2 separate regions of the Homo sapiens genome follow, and region 1 is linked to region 2. A link means that fine-mapping ties the variant in region 2 to the expression of a gene that starts in the linked region. Tissue or cell type: blood mononuclear cells. Region 2 holds a variant in brackets; the other region holds the start of a gene. All regions are shown on one strand. Distances are from middle to middle.

Region 1 (2,679 bases), 30 kb after region 2:
CCTCCAATTCACAGAAAAGGAAACTGAGGCTTGGTGAGAGGAGGTGACGTAAGTGGCAGTAGGGAAACCTCTTCTGCCCATGAAGATACAACTGTAACCACACTTGATCATGAAAGACCAAGCAGCCTCCGACATCAGGGTTTACAAAAGGAATCATACCTTTCTAGACCTGAAGTCACGGGGAATTCCTGATTACAACTGGAAGATCAACAGTTGGCTGGGTAACACGTTCATTTATGTCATAAATTGGCATCTTAGCCTAAGACTTTGTGTAGGGAGAGCAAGGGTGAAGTGTATGAAAATATTTGAAGTAAATCACTTTACAGCGTTTTAAAGGCGGAAAGAAGTAAAAGCACGTGCCTCCCAGCCTTGCCAGGATCCACCTTGGGCTGGGTCCTCCAGGTCTCGATCAGGGCCGACCCATTCTGCATCCTCCGCCTGGACCCCTCCAAGGCTTTTGCTGTAACTTGCGCTCTCCTGAGCTGCCTCGCAAGCAGCAACGACCTCTCCCTGGTCTCTCATCAAACTCATCCTCCCAGAAACCGGGTTCCTGCCCTGTACTGTGTTCCCATGGCAACCTGAGCTTACTACCCGCTGCTGGCATCACCCCCTCTCCGCTGCAGCCCCCTGCAGGGCGAGCTTGTCTGATTCGCCTCTGTCCCCAGTGCCCAGCACCGGGCCTGGGACTCAGGGAGCTCTGAAAGGATGGGGAACTAGATTTTCGGGCTCAAAAGAGAAGAACCCAAGGCGGTAGGAAAGGAGAGCAGAGTCCCCACTGCGCCCGCCTGCACTGAACCAGTCAGTCCCAGGGCTCCCGCTGTCCTTGGCTAGTTCTCTACCCTCCAGAGGGCCTCGGTTTCCTCATCTGTAAATCGGGGTCGCCACCTCTCCTGCAGGGCGGTGCAGGGGCCCAGCCCGGATAAGCCACCGAGGGCGCTGGGGAGACCTGCACCAGGTCCCTGGCCTAGGAGGCGGCGGCCTCCCCCCGCCTCTCCGCCCGGGCGCCCCGGACTGCGAGCTGTGCGGTGTGGGGCGCGGGGGTCTGGCTCACCTGGAGGTGACGAGCACCGCCGGGGACTGCATGACGGCGGCGGGGACTCCGGGCGGGGCGCGCAGTCACGGGACCCGGCAGTGCCCGCGTCACCGCGTCCCCGCCCTGCCTCCCGCTGCCCTGGCCTGCCCCCTGGTGGCAGCGGCCGCGCAGTTCGCGCCTGTGGCCAGAGGCGGGGCGGAAGCGCGGCTGGGCGGGTCCCGCACGGTCGCCGTCGGCCTGCGCTGCTCGGAGCTTCCGGAGCACCCAGGCTGAGCCGCGCCCGCCGCAACCACCTAGAAGAAGCCCAGCCTGGCCCTGGCACACGGTGAACCTTAATCGGTGTGTCTGTTTTGCGCTAAAGTTTAGCCGTTAGAGAGACGGGACTCTGCTGTTTCCGCCGCCAGTCCCCATTACAAAACCACTCCCCCTCTGCCCCAAGACCATTTCATTCAACCGATCGGTCAACAAATATTTACCAAGCTGGGGCTCTGTCCAGGCTTCGTGGGGTCTTCTTCAAGCTGCACAGTGAACGCCACGCAGCAGCCCAGTCCCCTTGAGCTTGCTGCCTCCAGCTAGCTCGCCTATCTGGTTCCTACTGCCTGCCCGCTCCATAAATGGCAGGCACTCTCCCGACAGGGGATCTTTAGAGAGGCAGCCTCTGCTGCTTGGCAGAGCCCTGGTGGAGGCCTCCCGGGGCCGGGCCTGCCTGGGATGGCTGCACTTGGGTCCCCAGCTGGAGCAGGGCAACGGGGTCCAGGAGCCAGTTCCCCTCAGAAGGGGAACGTACAGACATGCAGACCCTAACAGACCCACTCATTTTAGATTCACCTCTCCATGGGGTGAGGAACAGAGAGATCGTATCACCTGCCAACGTAGCCCAGGGAAAGAAAAGCTGAGTCTGCAAACAGGGCCAGCAGAAGGTGCAAACTGCTGCCCCTGTTCTGTTACTCCCTCCACCCAGAGCCCCAGTGACAAAAAGAAAGAGAAGCTGGGCTTAACTATACCAGAATTCACGGCAGGGCGATGTCAGCCATGTTTCCTGAGCCTATCAACCACCGCCACCAGCATCACCAACAATATCTACCAGTTTTTACAGATTTTAGTGAAGAAATCCTACAGTAAAAGATTTTGAAAAATGACTTTCCCCAATGTATCTCTTGAATAAATACGGACATTGATATGCCTTATTATTTGTCTCAGATTTGTTTATAGGCAAGATGAGCAATCATGAATGAAGTATGACAATGAATGAAAGTTCTGAGGGAGACCCTTGAAGGCTGCAGTGAAGAGCTGGGATGATGGCGGGAACCCCTGTCTGCTCTGCTGCTCATCGGCCTGTCCGTCTGCAGGGCCGTGTTCATGGCTGCAAATGGTCCTCCGTGTTTTGTTTAAATTGGCATGCCCTACTTTAGAGAAAGGGAGTTCAGGGTCTGGACAGAAAGCAGTATAGGCTTCAGCATTCCAGGAGTCTGAGTGTAGTGCCAGGCAGTCGAGCAGTCACCATTGCACTCACATTTATCCAACAGACAGAAACACAGTGAATAAGACACTTTAGATGCCTTCAGTGGACTTCTTTGCCCTCCTACATGGGGAGTGGGTGGGGGTCTGGAAAGGCTTTCTAAAGGAGCTGAAGTCCAAGGGAAAAC
Region 2 (2,679 bases):
GTGCAGAGAGGCAAAGGGCCTTGCCCTGAGACCCACAGCTAGTGTGAGGATGAACAGGACTTGGCCTGCATGTGGCTGGTTCTCTGGGGTGTGTTCCCCTGGCTGGGGCACCTAGACTCCAGTGTCACGGCGAGGTTTTCCCTTGTGCTAACGGGCATCTCTACGTCTATCGCTCAGCCATGCTGGAATCAGGTGAGTGAAGGCAGAAGACCTGTAGCACCCACTTGGTCTCTACAAGCTTCGGCTTCCTCATCTACAAGCAGGAGTAACAGTGTCACTGGCACTGCTGCACGGAACTGTACACAGAAGCACAGCACTGCAGGAGGAGAACTGGCTTCCGTTCCTCACCCTGCAACTCCTCCATCAGGCAGCCTCAGGCCACTCCTCCTCCCTGGTCCTCAGTCTCTTCTATAAAGTGGGATTGTACTTGCTCTACCATCCTCACAGGGATTCTTACAAGGATCAAATAAGACAACACAAGGAAAGTAGTTTCCAAATGTACAGGAAGGCTGTATGTACTGATGTCTACTGACAGCCACAGGGGCTGAGCAAGTGGGCATAAGACACAGAAAAGCAGTGCCTCCACCTACAATGAGGGACACCCCCCAGCCCAGTCAGACAGGGGCCACATAATTGCAAAGGCCTGGAAAGAAGGTGTTGAAGTCCAGAGAAGGGAGTGAGCCCTTGGGCCAGAGCAGGCTGGGAAGGCCTCCTGGGAAGGTGGGTCTTTTCAGAAGGGTGAGCCTGGCATGAATAGGGGAGAGAATTCTGAAGAAGGGAGCAGACAGCAGAGGTCTGGAGGTGGGAATGAGAATGAACAGGAAGAACCAGGCAGGCTCATGAGCAGCGGCTTCTTGCCCTGGGGCAGGGCCGGGCAGGGGTGGGGATAGAGAGGCGATACCTCTGATCAGGACAACTCCTGGCACTACCAGAGAGCCTGTGTGAGTATGGAGGTGTCCAGCACAGCACCCCCAGGGGTGGATGCCTGCCTGGAGCCAGCTGTGGAAGGAGCTCCGGACACCCTGCCTGCTTCCTGGCTCAACCTCCTGTGATGGGGCACAAACCCCAGAGAGAGAATTCAGAGTCTGTTTGGATGGCAGAGAAATGAATAAAAGGTGTCCTTCTTGAACAAACCCAGAGGGACTGGCCCAAGCCGGGCCTTCATAGACAGACCAGCTGTCTTGGGGTAGAGGTGATTTCAGGAGGTGTCACTCATGGCCAGTCTGCTCCTGGCCACCTCAGGTCAGATGTTCCGGAGCTCCCTCCAAGTGGCAGCCCTTCCTTGACTCCCCCAGGGCAGGTGCCAGCTCCACTGGCATGATGCAGCCTCCATTGAAGGCTGAGGGTACCTGGGAAAAGCTCAAAGGGACTGAATTATCCTCAAATAGGGGCCCTTTGGAAAATAAAGCAGCCGCTAGAGGCTTATGTCAGATTTCAGGATTAGCCTGCTTGGCAAAGCAGTGACTCTTTGGAACTAATCAGCAGCTGGATTTGCTCCCAGGTGGGTGGTGTACA[C/T]GGGTGGTCAGCCACGGTGGGAGGCAGCATAGCTGCTCTTGGGACACAGGAGGCTGCAAGGCACCCCTTTTCCAAGCACCCTATTTCTGAGTCATGACTAGGACTAGCTCTCACTAGCGCAAGGTCCAGCTCTTTTCTCCTCCAGGCCCAGCTGGTGTGAGGTCAACCAGTGGGGGGTAAGGGAGCTCTAAGACCCTGGCCCCATTCCTTCTCCCTGGGTTCCTGCGGAAGACAAGACTCACCTAAACATCTAGACTAGAGGCCCTGCCCTGGTGTGGCTGCACAGCCAGAAGGAACAAAGCCTTCTTAGCCTCGACCCGCTCAGTGTACACCCCACGCGGCCTCAGGGTGGCTGAGGCTAGTGACAGAATGAACGAAGGGGTGAAAGCATGAATGAATGAATGGCTATCAGAACATTCTTTATTATGAGGAAGTCCAACTACTCCCTGGATAGTCACAGGGCAGACACAAAGAATGAATGTGGTTCCTGCTCTCAAGAAGCTAATCCCAGTGTTACGGCTCTTTTTGAATTTGTCTGAATTTAAAAAAAAGAAAAGCAGTTAATCCTTTCATTAGCAGATGTCTGCTAAAGTGAAGGTGGGGGTGCGGGACCCACACTTTTTGAGCAGGGACTCCCCAAGCGCTCTGCGGGATGCTAAGGGGCACCACAGAGTGGGGGGCCCAGGGATGAATGAGAACGTGAAGTGCCATGTGGTGCTGGCCCGCGCACTACGAGCCCTGCTTTTTGTGGCATTTCCCCAATTCATCAGCCACAGAGCCCCTTTGAAGATAGCCTTTGACCACCCCACTGTACCACGTTCTGCAGAACACAGGTTGGGAAGTAACGGATTTAGAATAAACTAGGCCAGAAAGGTCCCACGAGAGCCACCCCACTGGGACACATGGACTCCTAGACATGCTCGGCCTGGCCCTGCTGCTCCGCAGGCAGACTCTAGTATTTCATTTCCCTGTGCCTCGGTTTCCCTCTAATAAAATAACAATCCTGGTTTCTTCCAGCCCGCTGGGATGTCAGGAGCGAGGACACAGGATGAGAGTGAACAGATGCCAGGGGCCTTGGGGACATGTAAATACCAGAAGCCGTCACGGTGACTCAGGCTTGGCGGGCACTTGCAGGGCTGTCTAATAGCCCGAGGCTGCTAATGA

The links. PIP is the estimated chance that this variant, and not a neighbour inherited with it, causes the effect.
Region 1: it holds the start of HS1BP3, and the variant in region 2 is fine-mapped to the expression of HS1BP3 in blood mononuclear cells (TOPMed, PIP 0.94).

Annotation. Positions count from the first base shown.
Region 1 is chr2:20,649,981-20,652,659 of GRCh38, forward strand. HS1BP3 (HCLS1 binding protein 3) reads right to left here and starts at 1,118. Exons shown (of 7, transcript NM_022460.4): 1 at 1,052-1,118. The coding sequence starts at 1,083. LOC105373466 (a long non-coding RNA gene) reads left to right here and starts at 1,302. Exons shown (of 2, transcript XR_001739320.2): 1 at 1,302-1,372; 2 at 1,995-2,220. RefSeq lists enhancers at 465-544, 565-714, 799-1,536 and a silencer at 795-1,384.
Region 2 is chr2:20,620,270-20,622,948 of GRCh38, forward strand. All of the region lies in intron 6 of HS1BP3 (HCLS1 binding protein 3), which reads right to left. Among named protein-coding and RNA genes, the nearest start is that of HS1BP3-IT1, 29 kb to the left of the region's middle. The variant C/T (reference allele first, on the strand shown) is at 1,516.